Linked DNA regions of Homo sapiens: all the other regions are linked to region 1. Evidence: fine-mapped expression QTL. A gene starts in region 1. Each other region holds a variant in brackets. All regions are shown on one strand. Distances are between the middles of the regions.

Evidence for each region.
Region 2: its variant is fine-mapped to the expression of PTER in sun-exposed skin (GTEx, PIP 0.96).
Region 3: its variant is fine-mapped to the expression of PTER in B cells (CEDAR, PIP 0.95).
Region 4: its variant is fine-mapped to the expression of PTER in whole blood (INTERVAL, PIP 0.92).
Region 5: its variant is fine-mapped to the expression of PTER in thyroid (GTEx, PIP above 0.99).
Region 6: its variant is fine-mapped to the expression of PTER in whole blood (INTERVAL, PIP above 0.99).

Annotation. Positions count from the first base shown.
Region 1 is chr10:16,435,119-16,439,209 of GRCh38, forward strand. PTER (phosphotriesterase related) reads left to right here and starts at 1,892. Exons shown (of 5, transcript NM_001261836.2): 1 at 1,892-1,929. RefSeq lists a silencer at 1,767-1,816 and enhancers at 2,237-2,416, 2,437-2,486.
Region 2 is chr10:17,294,566-17,298,656 of GRCh38, forward strand. No RefSeq gene overlaps it. Among named protein-coding and RNA genes, the nearest start is that of VIM-AS1, 67 kb to the left of the region's middle. The variant T/C (reference allele first, on the strand shown) is at 2,427.
Region 3 is chr10:17,218,836-17,222,926 of GRCh38, forward strand. All of the region lies in intron 1 of VIM-AS1 (VIM antisense RNA 1), which reads right to left. Among named protein-coding and RNA genes, the nearest start is that of VIM, 7.4 kb to the right of the region's middle. The variant CA/C (reference allele first, on the strand shown) is at 1,915.
Region 4 is chr10:16,464,474-16,468,564 of GRCh38, forward strand. The region is part of intron 1 of PTER (phosphotriesterase related); the gene reads left to right. Among named protein-coding and RNA genes, the nearest start is that of PTER, 30 kb to the left of the region's middle. RefSeq lists a silencer at 1,424-1,624. The variant G/A (reference allele first, on the strand shown) is at 1,571.
Region 5 is chr10:16,511,544-16,515,634 of GRCh38, forward strand. PTER (phosphotriesterase related) reads left to right here. Exons shown (of 5, transcript NM_001261836.2): 5 at 1-2,202. C1QL3 (complement C1q like 3) reads right to left here. Exons shown (of 2, transcript NM_001010908.2): 2 at 2,191-3,164. The coding sequence ends at 2,985. Among named protein-coding and RNA genes, the nearest start is that of C1QL3, 8.3 kb to the right of the region's middle. The variant A/G (reference allele first, on the strand shown) is at 1,790.
Region 6 is chr10:16,412,701-16,416,791 of GRCh38, forward strand. No RefSeq gene overlaps it. Among named protein-coding and RNA genes, the nearest start is that of PTER, 22 kb to the right of the region's middle. The variant CTTT/C (reference allele first, on the strand shown) is at 2,011.

The DNA of each region.
Region 1 (4,091 bases):
TTCTTGTCTGTAATTGGAGGGAAATAGCTCCTGCCACATGCAGGTTGCTCAAAATCTTAAACAAAATAACATACACCCATTACAAAACCTGGTAGAGTTGGCCCCGATAAACATCATCTATTAATATTATTATTAAAACTCTACTTTCCTTTGAAATGACATCTGTAGCTTCTGCCCATCTGCATACCTATTCTCTTTTTTCTCAGAATTCAGGATAAAATTAATTGACTAGGCCTTGTGCTGTGGCTTATGCATGTAGTCCTAACACTTTGGGAGGCTGAGGTGGGAGGATCCTTTGAGCTTAGGAGTTTGAGACCAGGCTGGGCATCATAGCGAGACCTCCATCTCTACAAAAATTACAAATATTAGCTGAGTGTGGTGGTGCACACCTGTAGTCCCAGCTGCTCAGGAGGCTGAGGCAGGAGGATCCCTTGAGCCCAGGAGTTCAAGGCTGCAGTGAGCTATGACTGCACCACTGAAATCCATCCTGGGCAACAGAGCCATTTCAAAATAATAATAATAATAATTGATGACAGTGTAATATGGTTGGGGTTCAGAAAATGATACCCCAAAATGAAGGCCTTAGAAGCAGCTCTCTCTAACCTCATGTCCTCCTGCCTCTGGCCCCTCATTCTAGAAACTGGAATCCCTCTTCCCCAAGGTGATTCACAGAAGCCAGAACCCCTCATCCCCAAAGCCAAGCATAAAACCTAAAAGTTTGACTCTGCGTGTCCCCTGCCTTTCTGTGTCAAAACTGGCGGTAAAGAAATTCTCTGCCCTGCTTTGTTTGACTGTAGGTCATAAGACCCCCATTCCAGAAAGGATCCTGCTCTATACCCAGAAGGAAGGAACACTGCACAGAAAAGCCAAAAAGAATCTAAACAGACAGGGCTTGCTCACTTAGTCTATTGGCATTAGCTCAGACCCTTTTTATGCCATCGTAGTATCTCTTAGGTTGGTGCAGAAGTAATTGCGGTTTTTGCCATTAAAAACCGCAATTACTTTTGCACCAGCTGAATACATGGCGGTCCATACTTTATTGAACCTAAGCGAAAAAATGGACCGTTTCCCCTGCATCTTTGGGTTTTCATTCTGAAGGCTCCCGGATCACATAAAGTTACGATCTAGTATATTTGTATGCCTTTTCTACTGTGAAACTGTCTTTTGTCAGTTGATTTTCAGCAAACTTTCAGAGGACGAAGGAGAGGTTTGCCCTTGGCCCCCTACAATACCTAAAGGTATGACTCTTTACTGTGGCAGCTGCTCCAAGCATCATGTTTTGCCAACAGACTCACACATACTAAGTTTATTTCAGTCACAGCAAGTACCAGGGCCAGTTCAAGTGCTCTAGCACGGCACTCTAATTCTAAAGAGAAGGAAACGCGGCACCGGGGCAGGAAACAGTGACAAGTGGGAACACAAAAACCAAAGTTCTCCGTATGCAGCATGAGGATCCAGAACCCACTGTGACATCAAATTGCCAGAGCACCACCTCCGATTTATTCTTGGGGAAAACCAAAAGAGCTACGGAATGCTCCCTTGTTCCAGACTGTTCTATGGAGAACTGGGATCTGGGGAAAATGCAACAGTTTCTTTCCGTTTGGGGATCTAGCCCCGAATTTTTTTCATTCAGCCAAACTACCGACAGTCAGACAGCGCCTGCAGGAGGGTGTGGCCAGGCAAAAACGCGGGGAACGGCCCCGGACCAGGGTGGGGCGTGGCAAGGGTTTGAAGGGCGTGTCCTACGAAGAGGTAGGGCTTGGCAAGGACCCACGGGGCGTGTCCTAGGACTCGGTGAGGGCGTGACCTCGGGCCAGGGGCGGGGAGAGAACCAGAGGGCGAAGTGGGAGGGCACAGGGGAGACTAAAAAGGCCAGGGAAGTTGGCCTGCCGGAAGTTCCCAGGGAGAAGGCAGCGCGTTGTACCCGAGGTAAGGCTTCTTGGAGTCAGAGCAGGAGCCGGAACTGTGGGCCCAGTAGGAAGAGTGGGGCCCGACGGCGGAGGCCGCGCGGCCAGGGTTCGCTGCAGAGCTCCACGCGAGGGTCCTGCCGGAAGGAAGGATTTTCTAGCCGCTGCGCTTGGGCCCTGCCGCCTCTCCTTAAGTGCTTGAGGGACGTTGCAAAGAGCGCCAGTCCCGTGTGGCGCCAGCTCCCTGTGGCTCGACAGCAATGCCCGGGGGCGTCATCGGGTAGCTGTGCTAAGCCTCCTTTAATAAGCTTTTTTTTTTTTTTTTTTTTAGATTCAGGGTCTGGCTCTGCTTCCCAGGCTAGAGTGCATTTGGCGCGATCACAGCTCACTGCAGCCTCGACCTCCTGAGCTCAAGCGAACTTCCTGCCTCAGCCTCCTGAGCTTCCTGAGTAGCTGCGACTACAGGCACGTGCCACCATGTCCGGTTATTTTTGTATTTTTTGTAGAGAGTGTCTCGCCATGTTGCCCAGGCTGGTTTCGAACTCCTGGGCTCAATCAGTCTGCTGCCTCGGCCTCCCAAAGTGCTGGCATTACAGGTCTATATTTTTTGACAGTTTATAAAAGCCAATTACCAGCGGTCATATGTCTGAGTCCTGTGCACTCTTGCTTAATCCACTCTGCAGCCCTGTGAAGGATTCTAGTGATAACGACAAAGCTAAGGTACAGAAAAATTAGGCCACACTGCTGGAAAGTTTAGAGATGGAAACAAAGTTTAGAGGTGGAGTCTTTCTGACTCCACAGCCAGTGTGCTGTTACTCTCTTAGACTACCTCATTCTTTGTACATCCCAAGTCAACAGGAACTAAAGGTATACCCTTACATAGGCAGTAAGAGGGGTTGCTGATTTAAAGAACTTTGGACCCAGAAAGAGTAGAGCCCTATTCTAGTTCTGGTTCCAGCTCAGTGACTTTCTACAAGTTGGTTTTCTTTTGCTTTTTTTAAAGACAGAGTCTCGCCCTTGCCCAGGCTGGAGTGCAGTGGTGCGATCTCGGCTCACTGCAACCTCCGCCTCCCGGGATCAAGCGATTCTCTTGCCTCAGCCTTCTGAGTGGCTGGGACTACAGGCGCGCTCCACCACACACAGCTAATTTTTGTATTTTTAGTAGAGACGGGGTTTCACCATACTGGCCAGGCTGATCTCGAACTCCTGACCTTGTGATTCACCCACCTCGGCCTCCTAAAGTGCTGGGATTACAGGCGTAAGCCACCGCGCCCGGCCTCTTGCTTTTTAAGACTAGGTCTCATTATTTCACCAAAGCTGGAGTGCAGTGGTGCTATCACAGCTCACTGCAACCTTCACTTCCCCCGTTCAAGTGATCCTCCCAGCTCAGTCTCCCACAGGTGCACACCACCACGCCCGGCTAGTTTTTATTTTCTGTTTTTTGTTTTTTTTTTTGTATTTTTGGTAGAGACGGGGTTTTGCCATTTTGTCCAGGTTGGTGTCAAACTCCTGGGCTCAAATGATCTGGCTGCCTCGGCCTCCCAAAGTGCTAGGATTACAGGCGTGAGCCACTGCGCCTGGCCTGCCTGTTTTCTAGACACATTAAGGTGAGTGGTCTCAGGCCAGGCGCGGTGGCTCACACCTGTAATCCCGGCACTTTGGGAGGCTGAGGCAGGTGGATCACTTGAGGCCAGGAGTTCGAGACCAGCCTGGCCAACATGTGAAACCTCTTTTCTTCAAAAAATTAGCTGGGCATGGTGGTGGGCATGCCTGTAATCCCAGCTACTGGAGAGGCTGAGGCACGAGAATTGCTTGAACCTGGGAGGCAGAGGCGGCTGTGAGCTGAGATCACACCACTGCACTCCAGCCTGGGTGTCAGAGCAAGACTCTGTCTCAAAAAAAAAAAAAAAAAAGGTAAGTGGTCTCTAGGTCGCTAGTGGATGTAATAATCTATGGATTTATGAGGATAAGATCCTGATTTTACCATTTAATGATATTTTGGGCCAGTTTTTTTCCTTTTTAATTGGGCAGCCCTCAAACCAGAATAGATTGAGAGGGTCTTCCAGTTTTGGGTCATATTTGCTGCTGAAATTACAAGGTAGTCAGGAAGGGTCTGTTTATTCAATCAAAGATCAATAAATGTGTATTTTGGAGGTCAGTAGCGGAGTATCCAGCCAGAAGGTG
Region 2 (4,091 bases), 860 kb after region 1:
CTTCTAATGTTCTGATTTCCAAGTTCTTTCCTCAAAGCTACAGTTCTAGTAGGCATGTGGTCTTCTTCCCAATTTGTAGCAGTGACAGTTTTGCCAAAAGTTTGATTCAGCATGACAACTTTTCCAAGCCTTCCCTCCTGCCTTATCTACATTGCACGACCTTAAGGTAATTTTTTTTTTTTTTTTTTTTTTTTTTTTGAGACGGAGTCTCGCTCTGTCTCCCAGGCTGGAGTGTAGTGGCGCGATCTCGGCTCTCTGCAAGCTCTGCCTCCTGGGTTCACGCCATTCTCCTGCCTCAGCCTCCTGTGTAGCTGGGACTACAGGTGACCAACATCACGCCCGGCTAATTTTTTTGTATTTTTTTTTAGTAGAGACGGGGGTTTCACAGTGTTAACCAGGATGGTCTTGATCTCCTGACCTCGTGATCTGCCCACCTTGGCCTCCCAAAGTGCTGGGATTACAGGCGTGAGCCACCGCGCCCCGCCAGCCTTAAGGTAATTAAAAATAAGTGGAAAAAAAGAGGCAGGAGAGATAGAAAAAAAAAATTAACTGGTCTTGATGATTACATCTAGGAAAGAACACAGGTTTGGTTACTAACACAAGCAACTGATAGGAAGTAAAATTTCAGAGACTTTTCTTAAGTTTTTGAGGGAATCACATTGGCAGAGAAACCATAAACACAGAATAAAAAGATGTCTTTGCTCGTTCCTTAAAACATTACTTAGTCGCCAAATGAACCAAATGCATCTTTATACTTTTTCAAGGATTTAAACACAAAGTAGTTATTGGGCTTTTTTTTTTTAAGATGGAGTCTCGCTTCATCACCTAGGCTGGAGTGCAATGGCACAATCTCAGCTGGCTGCAATCTCTGCCTCGCAGGTTCAAGTGATTCTCCTGCCTCAGCCTCCTGAATGGCTGGGATAACAGGCGCCTGCCACCAGGCCCAGCTAATTTTTGTATTTTTAGTGGAGGCGGAGTTTCACCTTGTTGGCCTCAAACTCCTGACCTCAGGTGATCTACCTGCCTCAGCCTCCCAAAGTGCTGGGATTACAGGCGTGAGCCACCACACGTGGCCTGGATTTTTTTTTTTTTTTTTGAGACGAGTTCTTGTTCTGTCACCCAGGCTAGAGTGCAGCAGTGTGAACATGGCTCACTGCAGCCTGCTGGGCTCAAGCAATCCTCCCTTCTCAGCCTCCCAAGTAGCAGGGACTACCGGTGCTTGCCATTACACCCAGCTAACTTTTTAATCTTTTGTAGAGACAGGGTCTTGCCATGTTGCCCAGGCCAGTCTCAAACTCCTGGGCTCTAGTGATCTTCCTGTCTCAGCCTCCCAAAGTGCTAGGATTACCGGCATGAGCCACTGCACCTGGCCTGACTGAAATATCTTAACAATACTTGACTTATACTTTAAAAACAGTGCATTAATTTTGCCTCTCTTGAATGTCGATTAATATTTTAAAAATCCAGTCATTTGAATATATCTTTGAAAACAGTTCTATTATTTTATTTTGAAAAATGACTTCATTCAAGTATAGATTTCTAGAACCTATGAGAAGCTGCATTTCCCTGGAACAAAAATAATGTAGGGGAAGTCCAGGGTGCCTACTAAAAATTTCTGCGCTTGGAAATCAAAACTAAAAGACAACCATTTATATACCTCAAAAGAAAAAAGAATAAGATGCTTTACGATGTAGTCTTGATTAATTGCAGTTTAAATATAATGGCAGAAGTCTCTTTACATATATAATATTGACTTTATTTCACTACAAGTTACATTTGCGTACCGTCAGCTTTTAGGATGTTCTCATTGACACATCTCTGTTCCACACTTTTAGAGGTTATAAAAGGAATGTGTAGGCCTGGCACAGTGGCTCACACCTGTAATCCCAGCACACTGGGGAGTTGAGGGAGGTAGATTGCTTGAAGCCAGGAGTTGGAGACCAGCTTGGACAATATAGTGAGACCCCATCTCTACAAAAAAAAAAAAACACAAAAAACAAAAATTAGCTGGGCATGGTGGTGTGCACCTGTATCCCCAGCTACTTGGGAGGCTGAGACAGAAAGATTGCTTGAGCTCAGGAGCTGAAGGCTCCAGTGAGCTGTAATTGTTCCATTGCACTCCAGCCTGGGCAAGAGAGCAAGACCCTGTCTCAAAATAAAAAAAAAAAAACAGAAATGTGTGTGAGATAATAATAATAGTAATAAACAGCTATGGCTACATGTGTTGAGACCCTATGTGCTTCTCACTTTTCATGGCTCATTTACCCCACAGCCTTATGGGCAAGGCAACTCAAAGAAATAATTAACTGCATCTAAAATTAGTATTTATTTATTTAAATTTAGAGACAGAGTCTTGCTCTGTTGCCGAGGCTGAAATGCAGTGGTGCAGTCGTGGTTCCCTGCAGCCTCAAACTCCTGGGCTCAAG[T/C]GATCCCACCACCTGGGCCTCCCAAGTAGCTGGGGCTACAGGTGTGTGCCACCACAGTGGGCTAATTTTTTAAACTTTTTGTGGAGATGCAGTCTCACTACATTGTCCAGGCTGGTCTTGAACTCCTGGGCTCAAGCGATCCTCCCATCTTGGCCTCCCAAAGTCCTGAGATTTCAGGTGTGAGCCACGATGTCCAGCCCCATCCTGCCTTTAAAATGTCCTCCCCTCCCATCTTGTCTTGGACAAAGTAGTCATCACTGGTTTGTTGATTTGGGGGAATGAAAGAGAGAACTTTAGAGATGAGGACAGCCAACCTCTTAGGGCAGGCATCTCTGAGCTCTCTTCTGAGACCTGGCGGGTGGCTAAGCAGGCAGAGCCCTCAGCATGCCAAGGGACTTGAGTTCATCAACTCCGTGAATCTGACATATGGTTGAAATATTGGGAACAAAAAAAATATGCCAGCTTTAAGCTTTGAGACTGTAGATCTATGAAAAATAAAATGGGAATGACATCATTGTCTCATCAGGAATCTAGCTTCCGTGAAGTGTCTGGGGAAAGATGGATGTTATATTTAATGTCAGAAGTGCCAGTTCATACTGCTCTTTATTAAACGGAGGTGCTTTGCCATCCCCGTTGTCTCAGAGGTTGACAGGTCATACCTCCAAGTGCCTAATATTATACATACAATTTTACTGCCTTTCTACTGAGGAACTAGAATGAAAAGTCAAACTTGTTACCTGTGATGGGATGCTGTAATGTGGCTGGTTTGTTTTTGTGTCTGGCTGTATTACTCTGTTTTCATGCTGCTGATAAAGACATACCTGAGACTGGGTCATTTATAAAGAAAAGGAGGTTTAATGGACTCACAGTTACACGTGGCTGGGGAGGCCTCACAATCATGGCAGAAGGTGAAAGGCATGTCTTACGTGGCGGCAGGCCAGACAGCATGAGAACCAAGTGAAAGAGGTATCCACTTATAAAAGCATCAGATCTCATGAGACTTATTCACGACCATGAGAACAGTATGGGGGAAACTGCCCTCATGATTCAATGATCTCCTCCCAGGTCCCTCCCACAACACAAGGGAATTATGGGAGCCACAGTTCAAGATGAGATTTGAGTGGGGACACAGCAAAACCATGTCACTTGCCTTGCAACAGTGCCAAGGTTGAGAGCTCACAAAATACTTCCAGGTTCGTGGCTCGACCAGTAAATGTAGTGAAGTCCTTAAGGTCAGAATTCATTGATTCCAAATTTTATTATGCAGAAGAAAGAAAAACATCCTTGGAATACATGTCATAGGAAGCCTATAGAGTCCTCTGCTTGAAGATGTGTTAAAAACCAGTGTTCACCCCTTTGCTGGAAATGGAGAGAAGACAGGGGAACCCTAAAACCTTCCAGGGTTTTGTAATAATCCTGAGAAAGGCTGTGACAAAAATGAATGACCCTGACATTTTCTTAAGGCATACAGAAGAAACCAAAGACTTCTGAAGACCAAAGAATTCTGTTTTGTTTGATTCACTGCAGTAAATGTGTTGAATGATATTTTGGAAGAGAAAATCTGCTGACTCTCATCTCTTGCTCAATTTTCTAATTTGCATCCAGAGACCATGTAGGCTGCTTAAAAGCTAGCTAAAAATGAGTTATAATAATAAGAATTTTGTG
Region 3 (4,091 bases), 780 kb after region 1:
GTAATCCCAGCTATTTGGGAGGCTGAGGCAGGAGAATCGCCTGAACTTGGGAGGCAGAGGTTGGAGCTGAGATAGTGCCACTGCACTCCAGCCTGGGCAACAGAGTGAGACTCTGTCTTAAAAAAAGAAAAAGAAAAACCCTGATCAAACACATAAATATCTCTGCAGCGTATTCTATCACACCTGTCTGAAGTTCTAGAGATGCCATTCAAGTAAATTACAATATTGTATCGGAAAAACTTCTCATAATTTATGTCTCAAACAACATGTACTTAATCTATATTAAGCTTGAGTACCACAGAATTTTTTTGTCCATATGCCACATATCCATATGAGTCACATTAGAGAACATATTTCTAGTACTTAGCTAATTAGAAATACAAAACCTTATTCAGTGGTTTGGAAATCGTCATGGTAGAATTACAAAGAGGGCTGCCAAATCCTTTATTCTGCTAGTTAACTCTGAATGGTCTTTCTTTACTTATATCTCATTGTAATGTTAATGAATTTTCTTATCTTTTCATCCTTGCATATTGTCATTATGTCATTTTATATTTCCTTCCATTTGCTACATGGCTTCATTTAGGGTTACTTTGTGTTATTTTTTTTCTAGAATTTGTCTTTGATTTTCATTTCCAACCTCTGCAAATCACACTGATCTTTGTCACTATACACAAAAACCAAAGCTTGAGAGGTTTATTTTAAACTCTGAGTTTATCAAACATATTCACAATTAAATATAATATTTAATATACTGAAGAAAATCATTTCACTGGCTGAGTGAATGTGATATGCCAGAGTTAAAGTATCTCCCAATTGTCCATTTTTGAAAATATCAGTCAATTCATTAATCAGTTTTGAAATACATAAGATGGAGTTCCATTATATTTTGCAGATTTAGAGGAAAGAGATTATGACTATATAGATGGTCAATAATCCCCTTCCAATGTCGCAGGTTACCATAAAGGCAAATAAAAATTTACATTATAAATTTATCTGTTCTTTAAAAGAAAATTAATAAACTGATATGCACATCAATAGGAGACTGGCTAAGGAAAATGTGGTACATATACACCATGGAATACAATGCAACCATGAAAAAGAACATCAGCCAGGCACGGTGGCTCACGCCTGTAATCCCAGCACTTTGGGAGGCCAAGGTGGGCAGATCACCTGAGGTCAGGAGTTCGAGACCAGCCTGGCCAATATGATGAAACCCCGTCTCTACTAAAACACAAAAATTAGCCAGGCATGGTGGCATGCACCTCTAATCCCAGCTACTTGGGAGGCTGAGGCAGGAGAATTGCTTGAACCTGGGAGGCAGAGGTTGCAGTCAGCCAAGATCGTGCCACTGTACTCCAACCTGGGAGACAGTGAGACTCTGTCTCAAAAAAAAAAAAAAAAAAAGAGATCATGTCCTTTGCAGGAACATGGATGCAGCTGGAGACCATCATCCTTAGCAAACTAATGCAGGAACAGAAAAGCAAATACTGCATGTTGTCACTTATAAGTGGGAGGTAAGATGAGAACACATGGACACAAAGAGGGGAACAATAGACACTGGGGCCTACTTGAGGGTGGAGGGTGGGAGGAGGGAGAAGATAAGAAAAAATAACTATTGGATACTAAGCTTAATACCTGAGTGATGAAATCAGCCATACAACAAACCCACATGACACGAATTTACCTACATAACAAACCTGCACATGTACCCTTGAACCTAAAATAAAAGTTAAAAAAGAAAATTGTGCTATTAAACAAAATTATTATTAGGTCCCTTACCTAAATATCTTGAGAAAAAAAATTCTACCACTGGGGAACTACATGACCTCCTCAAAGTAGGCAGAGTAAATTCCCAAGACGCCAATTGCACTTGGCAAATTTTCTAGCTGTGGCATAATCTTTTTCTGTCTA[CA/C]AAAAAAAAAAAAAAAAAAAAAAAAAAAGGAAAAACAACATTATAGGCCACTGGGCAAATACCTGCTAGTTTTCTTATGGTAGTCTAACTCAGCCAGTAACTAAACTGGGATGATGTCATTCAGGGCTCTTTCAAGTGACATGAGGTTTTTATAACTGGATTGATGGGTTTTTTGTTTGTTTTTGGTTGTTACTGTTTTTTGATCAAGTGAACTAATACTGAAAATCTGGCTTTAATTCTTTGTCCAACATCAGCTGGAACTTATTTTTGCACTAGATTTCTCCTCCATTTGTTAATTAAACTCTTGTGTTCCCCCTACATACTTACCACCTTCTCTTTCCTCTGTCATAGACTGTGAATTAGACATTGATGAAGTTAAAAAATCACTTATAGTCTACAGGGAATTGTTAGCTATGTTTTCCCCCTCAAATGTTCAAAGATACCTCCCAGAAAGTGTCTTTAAGGTTTTTCTTTCCCTTCTGATGTTTTAAACACTGTTTTAGAGAATCGTGATGTTCATGATTTTATACTAGCTATGGGAACAAGACTAACACACTCAAAGCAGCTAAATGACAATAAAAGACCATCTACTTTATTCCTTTAAGGGAAGAGATTAGAAGTGCTTAGAAATGCTGTAGACCCTGGGCTATGGTCTGATAGTGGTCGGTGGGTATTAGATTCTTGTAGGAGCGTGAACCCCACTGTGAACTGTGCATACCAGGGATCCAGGTTGTGCGCTCTTTACGAGAACATAACGCCTGATGATCCGTCATTGTCTCCCATCATCCCCAGATGGGACCATATAGTTGCAGGAAAACCAGCTCAGGGCTCCCACTGATTTTACATTATGGTGAGTTGTATAATTATTTCATTATATATTACAATGTAATAATAATAGAAATGTTTGAATCATCCTGAAACCATCCCCCTGCCTGGTCCATGGAAAAATTGTCTTCCATGGAATCGGTCCCTGGTGCCAAAAAGGCTGGAGACCACTGCTGCATAATGTAAAACCACACTATCCAATTATAGCTCACCTTCATGAGACTATAATTTATATAGACTAGAGAAGGGAAGATATTTCCAGGTTAAGGGACCTGAATTAACCGTCTTTCAACTCAAATTAACTTTCCAACTAATTATTTCTGTCTGGAATGCATCTATTCTTTCTTTTTTCTTCTTTTTTTTTTTTTTTTTTTTTTTGAGATGGAGCCTCATTCTGTCGCCAGGCTGGAGTACAGGGGCACAATCTCGGCTCACTGCAACCTCCGCCTCCTGGGTTCAAGTGATTCTCCTGCTCCAACCTCCCTAGTAGCTGGGACTACAGGCGGGCACCACCAGGCCCAGCTAATTTTTGTATTTTTAGTAGAGACAGGGTTTCACGATGTTAACCAGGATGGTCTCCATCTCTTGAACTCATGATCCACCCGCCTGGGTCTCCCAAAGTGCTGGGATTACAGGCGTGAGCCACTGCGCCCAGCCGCATCTATTCTTTTAATTATCCTGTTCACAAGGCTCAGAGCCCACTCGATTTTTCTTATCCCCTAGCCCTTAAACATCACAATTCCTTAAATCATCTCCGCGTCAGGCTCCCTTTACCATCCACTTGATCTACCTCAAGCAGACCTCAAATCAGCCTCATTCTCCACCCCTAAAATACAGCTACAAGCATGTCTTTCTCCTAGTTGAAATTCACAATGCATTCCCTCTGCCCACCACATTAATTATCAACTCCTTTTCCTGGCATTTACTCATCCAACGCATGGCCCCACGTTAACTTTCAGTTCCCTTTCTCCCCTACAAATACTCCATAATCCAGCAACCCTGGGATTATTCCTGTTCCCTAAATGTCCTCAGCACTCTGCCACCCACCCAGTTTTTGCTTATACTGTTTGGTCAGCACTAGAGCAACCTTTCTTTGCCATGATAAGCTGTAGAAATTGTACTTATTCTTCAAATACTATCTTTTCTAATGACATTTTCTGTTCTCCCCCAAGTAGATAGGATCATTTTTTTTCTCAACAAAATTTAACTTATTTTTAGGTATAGTATTATAGTTTTTTTTTTTAATTTAGATTTAGGGGGTACATGTGCAAGTTTGTTACATAGGTATGTTGTGTGATACTGAGGTTTGGGCTTCTAATGATATCGTTGCCCAAATAGTGACCATAGTACT
Region 4 (4,091 bases), 29 kb after region 1:
TGTGTTTCCTGACTCGTCTCCTGGTCTCTGGTTTCTCCAGCTTTCAACCTGTATTCCAACTGCCTACTTAATGATCGCCCTTATGTAGTTCTCATCCTCTGGGCCAAGCCCTTGTGTCAGTATTTTTCACTGTAAGCTAATGTACAACCTACAATCAGCCTTTACGGGATGCTTTAAAGTCTGGAAACATGCTCCTCATTGCTCATATCATCAGAATGTCTCTGTGACAAGCCACCTCCTCCAGGAAGCCTTCTCATTCCTCCAGTATCAGTGAATGTTGTCCACACCGATCTCACAGGGCACTTGCTTTGTACCTGTATCCATCCATTTTCATGCTCCAGATAAAGACATACCTGAGACTGGGTAATTTATAAAGAAAGGAGGTTTAATTGACTCACTGTTCCACATGGCTGGGGAGGCCTCACAATCATGGTGGGAAGGGAAGGATGAGCAAAGTCACATCTTACATGGCAACAGGGAAGAGAGAACTCGTGCAGGGGAATTCCTCTTTATAAAACCATCAGATCTCGTGAGACTTAAACACTATCACGAGAATAGCATGAGAAAGACCCACCCCCATGATTCAAATACCTCCCACTGGGTCCCTCCATGACATATGGGAATTGTGGGAGCTACAATTCAAGATAAGATTTGGGTGGGGACACAGCCAAACCATATCAGTACCTCTCTCCTGACATTTACTGCACTCTGCTTTGTATCGTAAGTATCCTATGAATATATAAAAACGATGAGTGACTCATTGAATGCTTACCATATATGTGCTAAGGTAGGCACTGTGTTGGTGGCTCCTCTCCTAGGGCCAGGATTGTTTCTTTTTCATCTTCGTTTCCCTGCATATCTTCAGTTGAAGTTAGTAGATCCTCAGGAAACATTTGCAACATTAAATTGAAATGTATGCAGGTGAAATTAGCACGTTTGGAAAGCTGATTTCCTTGAATTCCCTTCCTATGCCCTGAGAACTTAAGACCGAAGTTGCCCCCTCAGATCTGTAAATCAAAGCAGTTTTTCTTAATATTTCAGGAAGCATAAAGATCATTGGTCACAAGCCTATAAAGAGGACATAATGCCAACGAAAACATAGGTTTGCTTGTGGCTGAAATTACATTCCATCAGTATGGAACTGAAGGGTGGATAGAACAGAAATATTTGCTCATTGGTTGAGCAGACATTTATTGATCATCTGCCTCTGTGCAATTGCTGTTTGTATTAGTTCATTCTCACACTGCTATAAAGATACTACCCAAGTCTGGGTAATTTATAATGGAAAGAGGTTTAATTGACTCATAGTTCTGCCTGGCTGGGGAGGCCTCAGGAAACGTAAAATTGTGGTGGAAGGGGAATCACGCATGTCTTACATGGCAGCAGGAGAGAGAGGGCAAGTGAGAGCAGGGAAAACTGCCTCATAAAACCATAAGATCTCATGAGAACCCACTAACTATCATGAGAACAGCATGGGGAAAACTGTCGCCATGCTCTAATCACCTCCCATCTGTTCCCTCCCTCAATATGTAGGGATTATGGGGATTACAATTTGAGATGAGATTTGGGT[G/A]GGGACGTGAAGCCAAACCATATCACTGTTATAGCTTAGAGTTGTACCTAGTGTTCCAAGTATGGGAATGGAGTTAGTTATCAAAACAAAATCTAGTTACAAGTACAACTCTCCTTTTCATCAATTATGGTGTTGACTTTCCCAGGCAGGTGTCCAGGCAGGCAGCAGACCAGAGCAAGGCAAGGGCTAGAGTCAGAATGGAAAAGTCTCTGAGCTCCCTGCTAGTGGCTGTCAGACCTTTTTCTGTTATAACTACCTTTTTTTTTTTTTTACACCAAACAGGCTAGGTTAGACCATCTAAAAACAGGTATCTGCACTGATTGTTTGTTTGAGACAGAATTTTGCCCTGTCACCCAGGTTGCAGTGCAGTGGCACCATCTCAGCTCACTGCAACCTCCGCCTCCCCAATTCAAGTGATTCTCATGACTCAGCCTCCCAAGTAACTGGGATTACAGGCATGGGCCACCACGCCCAGCTAATTTTTGTATTATTAGTAGAGATGGGGTCTTGCCATGTTGGCCAGGCTGGTCTCAAACTCCTGGCCTCAAGTGATCCGCCTGTCTCTGCCTCCCAAAGTGCTGGGCTTACAGGCATGAGCCACTGCACCTGGCCTGATTCTTTTCAACTCTGGATTAACAAAACGTGGTAGCCAAAATCAAGACTTTTCTTGGAGAGTCTACCGTGTGATCTTCAAAGGACCTGGGGAGACTTGTGTGGGAAATACCTTTTAGATATACTGTATTGTTATTTGTGCAACTGAATCATACAGCCTTTCTGTGATTCAAAGTTTATTTAAAAATTAAACGGCCTTAGCAAGAAATTCCTGAGGATGGTCTATACATTTAAAACATTTACCTAAGAGCCATTATCCAGTTTTACTTCTTATAAAGGAAGACCTATGGCCATGAGTCACTTGCAGTAACTTTACTAAGTATTTTTAGTTTTCTGATTTTCAGTTGACTTCCACCAATGCAGATAGGAAATGTCTTTGGAGATGAAGTCACTTGCTGTTATTTTTTTATATGCTCAAGATTCTGGCTCTTACACTACTGTCCCCTTATCCATGGTTTTGCTTTTTGTGGTTTCAGTTACCTGTAGTCAACCACAGTCTGAAAATATTAAGGTATTTTAAGACAGAAAGAGAGAGAGGAGAGAAACCGCATTCACGTAAGTTTTATTCCAGCATATTGTTATAATTCTTCTATTTTATTATTAGTTATTGTTGCTAATCTTTTACTGTGCCTAAATTATAAATTAAACTTTATCATAAGTATGTATATATGGGACAAAAACATAGTATCTACAGGGTTAGGTACTATTTGCGGTTTCACACATCCACTGGGGCCCCTGGAACAGATTTTCTTTGGATAAGAGGGCACTACTGTGGATAGTAAGGGAAAGTTAAAAAAACAAAAACAAAACATAAAAAGGCTATGTATTCCTATGTAGTTGGGTACAGAATAATAATCTAAAATAGCACATTTGCTGCCGGGCTCAGTGACTCATGCCTGTAATCCCAACACTTTGGGAGGTTGAGGTGGGTGGATCACCTGAGGTCAGGAGTTCGAGACCAGTCTGGCCTACATGGTGAAACGCAGTCTCTACTAAAAATACAAAAATTAGCCAGGTGTGGTAGTGGGTGCCTGTAATCCTAGCTACTCGGGAGGCTGACGCAGGAGAATTGCTTGAACCTGGAAGATGGAGGTTGCAGTGTGCAATTGCACTCCAGCCTGGGTTACATGAGTAAAATTATGTCTCAATAATAATAGTAAAATAAAATAGTATATTTGCTGCCTTCTGAGAACTTGGAGTGTGAAGATACAGGAAAGTTGAAAAAGCAAACCTGGCTTCAAAATCCAGAGCCCAAACACTTTGGGAAAAACATTTTCCATGCTTTTTAATAATTTTTAGCTCTTCCGATTTGGGAAAATAATGTCATATTCCGTAAAAGGGCTGTGCTGTGATCTCAGAATTATCTATTGTCAGAAATATATTAAATAAAGATTCCAAGAAAATGGCCAGGCATGGTGGCTCATGACTGTAATCCCAGCACTTTGGGAGGCTGAGGCAGGCGGATCACTTTAGGTCAGGAGTTTGAGACCAGCCTGGCCAACATGGCGAAACCCCGTCTCTACTAAAAATACAAAAATTAGCCGAGTGTGGTGGCAGACACCTGTAATCCTAGCTACTCGGAAGGCCGAGGCAGGAGAATCACTTGAACCAGGGAGGCAGAGGTTGCAGTGAGCCGAGATCAAACCACCGTACTCCAGCCTGGGTGACAGAGCAAAACTCCATCTCAAAACAAAAAACTTCCAGGAAAATGTTTAGCTCTTTTTTTTTTTTAGTGACTTTTAACCTCTATTAACTACACATTTTTGTTGTTCTTTTCTAGTGCTAATTCCACTTCTATTTATAATTCTTTGCTTCTGCTTTAATTTTTGTTTTCTTACTTTATTGTATGATTCCTTTGTGCGAGTCTCCTCAAACCCTTTGTGGATAAAGCGGGACTAAAACAAGCAAG
Region 5 (4,091 bases), 76 kb after region 1:
GTTTTTCTCCCTAATCTATCAGCTGCACTACTTGAGAAAATTTAAAGTGTTTCTAGTTAAATTATTTCCTTCTTGAGCGATCTAATGTTTCTTGTAATATTGATGATCCTACTAATTATCCTGCTGTTCTTTAATTAATGCTTAATGAATAATATGGCACTGTAAAATAGCTTCTGCAACAAGGGAAGTTAAATTTTGAGACTTTTTTCCCCAAAGGATACTGACTGTAATACAATTACCAATTCACAATGATAAAAATATTTTGAAAGGTTAATTTTATACTGTCCACCTATCTATATATTCTTCTACTGAAATGATTTTGATATCTTTGGCTTTCCGGTATCTATTTTTGCCATACATTTTGCTGTTTTGCAAAGTTTGTATAAGAACACATAACACTACTGAATTATAAAAATTCAATCATAAAAGTCAAAATATATTACATAATATAGTTTAATGAATCATTACATTTATAATAACAAAGGCCACAATTTAATTAATTGGTAAGATATAATGCAAAAAAAAAAAGAGAAATGTTTGCCTTATGTATATTCCCTTTATTTCCTTTACCTTTTGTTTTTCCTTGGACCTAAACAGAGAAAATAATGCTTATGTATCTGAAGAAAAGGTCAGATCTATTGGAAATGACAGCCCGATACTTGAGCCTCCTCTTTAAAAGGTATCCAGCCCTGATATTTTGTGTAAATAAAATGTTTTTAAAACCTGTTAGTTAAAACACTTAGGTGATGGGCACTGCTGCTTATAAATTCATCTTTTGGTTGAATCCTCACTATGCTATTTGGTACCTAAAAATATTCTCCAAACCCTTGCTGCCAGTTCCTCTTTGATAAATATATAGTTAATTCGAAATAAAATCCATTGCAATTCATTTATGAGTTATCTTACATATCACAAAGACCAATTAGAATTAGTCATTATTCTTGATGAAGAGTCTGTTTTTAATCATAAAAATCATGACAGTTACTCAGACCCAGGCATTTCAACAGAGCTAACACCACCTTCAGATAGGCACACCATGCATAACTCTTGGGAAGTTGAGCTTTGCTAAATAAAAGATATTTCTGCTGATCAAAGATGATCAAGCTTTCTGTGTATTGGAACAGAAAGTAACAAAGAGGAATGAGCCAGGAGAACAAACTAATTCCTTTAAATAAATAAAAAAAAAAAATGCAAATGTCCTTCACCAGTAAAGCAAGCAAATTTTTAAAATCTCTGTTTTTGAAATCTACTCGTCAAAGAGTTTTCAGAGGCAATGAAAGGGGAACAGATTTTTCATTGTAATAGTGGAAGTTGTGTGATAGTTAGGAGATATCAACATGCATTTTTAATCTTTTCCTTAGATGAAAGAGATGGCTTTTGGCAGTGTGTTCTAACCAGAAAGAAAGGATTTGTATTACTCTCCAAATCTACTGTACTGTCAGCTTCACTCCACCTGAGAAAAAAGAAAAAAAAATTGATAGCTCAAATGCATGTAATTCATAAACACTGCAAAGGAGAGCCACTTGGTGTCTGCAGTCCTCATATTAACAGTCTGTCACAGAATGCAGTTAAAGTATTGATTGGCATATGGTAATAGAGCAACCATAGCCTTAACTTACAGACCTGTGAAATAAAGGGCATTTTGACCTAATACAATTAATTTTCTGGATAACTCTTAAAGAGAAGTCATTTTAACTGTTTTTGCTACTCCATATATTGTCATTCAAAATATATTTTAACCCAAAATAAGTTAAATAATTTGTGCATGTTTGTGTGTGTATATATGCAT[A/G]CACTTTTTTATATTAAAATTTTGAGGCTATACAGCCACTGTGCCCTGTGGAATAAAGCCATATATATAAATGTTTTATATGTATATGTTTTATACATAAATAAAACATTTCATCTAATATATATATGTGTGTGTGAGTATATGTGTGCATGTTTAGCAGATATTTGTATAAAATATAAACACTCTGTTGTCATATAGGCTATATGCGAAATTGTTAATTTTAAAATAACCTCAGGCCACAGACTTGTAGTAATCATTTGAAGGCCTCACCTAGTGTCCCCTTGGTGACGTATGCAGCAGCTCAAATTAAACCTTTGTGCATTGGGTTATGAATAATCTTTTCTTCCAAAGATGGCAAAAGCCTCGGTTTGATTTGATACTAAAGAATAAATTTCTCTGACTTTCCCAGTGAATCTAAATGTATTCAGTTGACAAAATGGACACATAAGGGCTTTTTCTAAATACCGTACATAATTACACATTTTCACACTTAGAGGGTAATCCTATGATACACTGTCAATCTCTATTTTTAAAGACTATCACCAGAAAAGAGAGAAAAGAAAATTCATATAAGAAAAAGAAAATGTGAAAAAGATCATAGGCTTGGGAATTCCCTCAAATCCAGAAAATTCCAGGTTAAGGCTTGAAGTTGAATCATTCCCAGGTCTAGCTCTAAGGTTAACAAGAGTACAAGGCAAACAATTTCTTTGGGGACAAGCAGCATTATTTCAATTAGACCTTCTCCTGCAGGGCAAAAATCATTCTTCCCCACACTATGAATGGACTCCAAGTATCATAATAAGCAGGTAAACTCACAAGAACCAAAGCTGACATATGGATAAAAGCAGCAAGATCACAGTACACCAAAGTATCATATATATAGAAGAAATAATTCAATGTCTTAGATTTGTCTATAAAAATTTGTGATCTATATAGGACTTCATTCACATGGACACTAACGATAAGGAGTATTTGCTTTGGCGGTAGTGGATCACACATCTGCTTATCTTGCTTTGATATTTTTTACATAATGTTTCTGAGTGATACAGATGTGAGTCAGGTAGCATTTGATTTCCCCACATATACACAACTGAGGTGCCCTGCCATTGGCATCCCCTGGGATCCTTGATTCACTGACGTTAGCCATACGAATCCAGTGTTCAAACTCAGAATAATAAGCTTAGTTTCTGCATTATCAGTCAGCATAAATAATAAATCCAGAAAACGTGCTGTATTTGTTGTTGTTTCCTCCATGGGCTTTCCCGCCATCTAATTTGATATAGACTTCATCTCCCGGCTCCAAATGAAGAACCACACTGTTACTGGCATAGTCGTAATTCTGATCAGCATCTTGGGCAATTGCACTAGCACGCACCTATGTGAAACAGACAAGAATTAGGATGCGTAAATGAGAATTCTCAAGTTTTCTTTTTTGCCATTCATGTAGCATCACAAGCTGACTTGCTGCCATAGTACAGAATTTAGCATAGCAAAGTCCATGTTGACCTCAGAGCTTTATGAGGATAGTGCTGTGGCAGTTTCCGCTACGTTAGTGAGAAGGAGGACAGAAAGGGACAAAATAGTGCTTCAGTGGGGACCATTCTGGCAGTCTTATCTAACTACACATTCTAAACTATGCATACAATTTATTATCTTCCTGTATCACTCGTTTTTCTAACTCCTTCGATCCCTATGCCCAATCACATTTTGAAATGAAACTAATAGTATTTTTTGCATTTTAATTTAAGCCAGATAGCAATATTCTAATCAGCTGTTTATGAGTACAGAAGTTCAAGTCTAAGTTCAGCTGTTCACCACAATTATTAGAAAATTGAGGTATGTAATAGCTAAAAATACCCAGGAAAATACCAACTCCTCTACTACTTACAAAGAAAAAAAAAAAAAAGAAAAAGTCTTTTGATTTAGGGCTTTCCAAATCTAATTCATGTAAAGCCCCCTTTACCAGGCTGCTTCAGAAGCTTAGCTCATTTATACATCTTTGATTATATCACCTGAGTTTTCAGAGTTCTTTTTTCCATCGTGTCTTTTTATTACTTAACTATGACATGTGCATTTAAATCAAGAATTTAACCTCAACATATCTAAAAGTTAAAGAAAGGACTAAATTTTCATGCTCTGAGGCCTCTCAAGTTTCAAGAATTTTTGAATGATTTCGTTGAATATCCACTTACACTTAGGAGATTCTAAATATGTGGCTTGATTTGAGGGCAGAGGCTGCTTATAATCTGCCCATGGTAAGCCTGTGATCTCATTAGTGAGTTGATAGACATTTACAAACAGT
Region 6 (4,091 bases), 22 kb before region 1:
GAGAGAAGGAGAGAGAGAGAAAGGGAGAAAAAGAGAGAGAGAGAAAGGGAGGAAGGGAGAGAAAGAGAAAGAAAAAAAGGAAGGAAGGAAGGAAGGAAGGAAGAAAGAAAGGAAGGAAGGAAGGAAGGAAGGAAGGAAGGAAGAAAGAAAGAAAGAAAGAAAGAAAGAAAGAAAGAAAGAAAGAAAGAAAGAAAGAAAATGCTCTTTTTTTTTTTTAAAGACAGATGAGGTCTTGTTGTGTTGTCCAGGCTGATTTTGAACTCCTGAGCTGAGCTCAAGTGACCCTCCCACATCAGACCTCCCAAGTGCTCAGATTGCAGGCATGAGCCACTATACTGGGCCCCTGGACTGGCTCCGTTGTCCTTTGTTGCTTAGTCTCCTTTTCCTCCTATTTAGACCTTCTTACCTGCCTTCCTGCCTTCCTGCCTTCCTGACAGTTGTTGTTACTGGATATCCATTCATAAAAATGGCTGCTTTACAGCTTAAATCCACCAGGGTTTTACACAAGTTCCATAACCCATCCCAATAGAGCACAGGCACTATTGAATTTGCTAAATCATAAGGTCCACGTGAAAGAATTTCTTCTACTGCAGCTTTGATCAGCTAGAAAGTTTCTCTTTCCTTCTCCTCCTGGTAAATAAGAGGCGAAAAAGAAAACTTCCCTGAATTTTTTTCGGTGTTTCTATAAGAAGCCCTAGCCTTCATCTGTAGCCATTTGTCTAGTTAATTGTTCTGATCGGAAACAGTACTAACTTCTCTTATCTCCCCAGGTGAACCAAAGAGTTACAGCCTGAGTAGGTACCTTAGGCTGAGCCCAAGTTGCAAGAGAAGCAGCAATACTACATTTCTAGGTATCTGCATTTCAGAGAGAAACAAGGCTGGGAATTTTTTTTTTTTTTTTTTTTTTTTTGGAGACAGAGTCTCTCTCTGTTGCCCAGGCTGGAGTGCAGTGGTGCAATCTCGCCTCACTGCAACCTCGGCCTCCAGGGTTCAAGCAATTCTCATGCTTCAGCCTCCCAAGTAGCTGCAATTACAGGCCTGCACCACCATGCCCAACTAATTTTTGTATTTTTGGTAGAAATGGAGTTTCACCATGTTGGCCAGGTTGGTCTCGAACTCCTGGTCTCAAGTGATCAGCCTGCCTTGGCCTCCCAAAATGCTGGAATTACAGGTGTGAGCCACCACATCCTGCCAAGGCTGGGAATTTAAAGAAGTCTCAAGATCATTAAGGCAGAGACACCCAAGCTATCCAGCTTCTGGCTAGATTTTATTTCCACACAAAAGGATTGGATAAGGAGGAGACTTTCTCAGGAGCGGAGGGGGCAACTGCCTCCTACCCTTTTAGGAACAGGAGAAATCAGTTTCCTTGTTCTTGCCTTCTCCTGTAGGACAATTGACCTGGCTCTCATCACGTTACCTCAGGAGTAAGACTGAAGCTAGGGGTACCAGCGCACTTATTACATTTACTATGAGGTGTTTGATATGAAATCTATCTCTGATCCAGAATTCTGCATGCATATATTTAGGATACATTTTATAAAGATAAATATTAACAACTTGACAATAAGATACAGGCAGAGTTTCTCAAAGTGCATTTGCAGACCTCTTGCATGAAAACCATCAGAGGGAGTTGGGGTGGGGGTGAGGATAGGAGGGGTAGCTTCATCTGTTTTTGCTTTTTTGTGTGTGTTTTTTGAGCTCCCTCTGCCTCCCAGCCTGGGAGTACAGTTTCACAATAACGACCCACTGTAGCCTAGACCTCTGTGGCTCAAGCAATCCTCCTGCCTCAGCCCACTGAGTAACCGGAGCTATAGGCACGCACCACCGTGCCTGGCTAATTTTTGTATTTTTTGTGGAGATGAGGGTGAGGAGGTGGGTGGGGGGGGTGGGTCTCACTATGTTACCCAGGCTGGTCTCAAACTTGGGGCCTCAAGCAATTCTCCTGCCTTGGCCTACCAAAGTGCTCAGATTATGGACATAAGTCACAGCCCCAGTCAGGGGTCATGATTT[CTTT/C]TTTTTTTTTTTTTTTTTTTTGAGATGGAGTCTTCCTCTGTCACCCAGGCTGGAGTGCAGTGGCGCGATCTTGACTTACTGCAACCTCCGACCCCCAGCTCCCCCCACCTCCCGCCTCCCCTGGTTTCAAGCCATTCTCATGCCTCAGCCTCACGAGTTGCTGGGATTACAGGCATGTGCCACCACACCCGGCTATTTTTTTTGTATTTTTTGTAGAAAAGAAGTTTCGCCCTGTTGGCCAGGCTGGTCTTGAACTCCTGACCTCAGGTGGTACACCTGCCTCGGCCTCCCAAAGTGCTGGGATTACAGGCATGAGCCACCACACTTGGCCAAGGGGTCATGATTTTTGACTGGGAAAATTATTAAGCCTAAATGAATGCATTAGAATCTCTTGGTGCGGAACCCACTGATATGCATTTTAACCCATAGGCCCAGGTCATCCTATGCCCACCCTTTTTCCTGTGGTATCCTTTTTCTGAAAAGTCCCTGTTCTCCTGGGTTAGTATAAATATTCACTAAAAGGTATTGTGGTCAGTTTGAATGTGCTTTGTAATTTTTAACAATGATAAACTTCTGTTTAACTCTGGGTTAAACAGAAAACATTTTCATTTCAATCCTTGTTATTGAACAACTTTCCCAAATGCATTAACTCTTTTCTTAGAAGGTAGAAAATATTATTTAGCTTGTTCTCATGAATCTAGGGTCAGCCAGTGTTTGAGGATGAGCATTCAAAACTCCAGTTCTTTCACCGGAGCATGGGGACAGAGGCACTGTGAGGCTCGTTGGCATACTGGCATGGGGCCACAGTTATGTTTTATTATGTTTTCTTTTTTTTTGAGATGGAGTCTCACTCTGTGGCCCAGGCTGGAGTGTAGTGGCACAATCTCAGCTCACTGCAACCTCCGCCACTCGGGTTCAATAGATTCTCTTGCCTCGGCCTCCCGAGTAGCTGGGATTAAAGGCATGCACCACCACGCCTGGCTAATTTTTGTATTTTTAGTAGAGACGGGGTTTCACTATGTTATCCAGGCTGGTCTCGAATTCCTGGCCTCAGGTGATCCACCCGCCTTGGCCCCTCAAAGTGCTAGGATTACAGGTGTGAGCCACCACACCTGACCTACCTTTTCTAATCAGAACAGCTTGCTTTCTATAACTTTTCCCCCAAAAGAAATTTGAATTACAGTATAATAATAGCAATTTGATCTGCTTCGTATTTATGTTATATAATACTTTCACACTATGATAATCCGTAAAATTTACTATATGCCCAGTATATTTTTCCAGTAAACAGACTGAGTGGAGTTTATCAAAACTCTCACTTAGCAGAATTTGACCTGTACATCTTTAAAACTATAGTTTTTATGAGCAATATTTGAAAGTTCTGAGCAATATTTTTTAAAAGTCATATTTATTTATTTGTTTATTTTTTATTTTTTTTGAGACAGAGTCTCACTCTGTCACCCAAGCTGGAGTGCAGTGCGTGATCTTGGCTCACTGCAACCTCTGCCTCCCCGGTTCAAGCAATTCTCCTGCCTCAGCCTCCCAAGTAGCTGGGATTACAGGCATGCACCACCACATCTGACTGATTTTTGTATTTTTTGGTAGAGACAAGATTTCACCATGTTGGCCAGGCTGGTCTTAAACTCTCGACCTCGAGTGATCCGCCTGCCTCGGCCTCCCAAATTGCTGGGATTACAGGCATGAGGAAAGTCATGTTAAAGTGTAAGGAAATACAGACAAATATTAATGTCTTTTACATTGTTTTAGAACAAAATTAAGCTTCTAATGTGTGCCATTTTTACCATTTCTTGTTTGTTGTGGTTTTTGGAGAACAATATCTTTCCCCATAAATTCTTAAATAATGTTCAAGAAAAGTACTGTGTGATGGATGAATCTACTTTTCTTTAGTAAACTATTCCATGAGTACTTCCTTTGTAAACCAGTACATACTATTTACTTTTCACCAGAAATTACACACCCTAGAGTAATTTAAACTAACACATGCTTGTGCTTCTATTAAGGTTTTTATTTCTAATCTCTTCCCAATTTATAGAGGAATAAAATTATTGATGCTATCT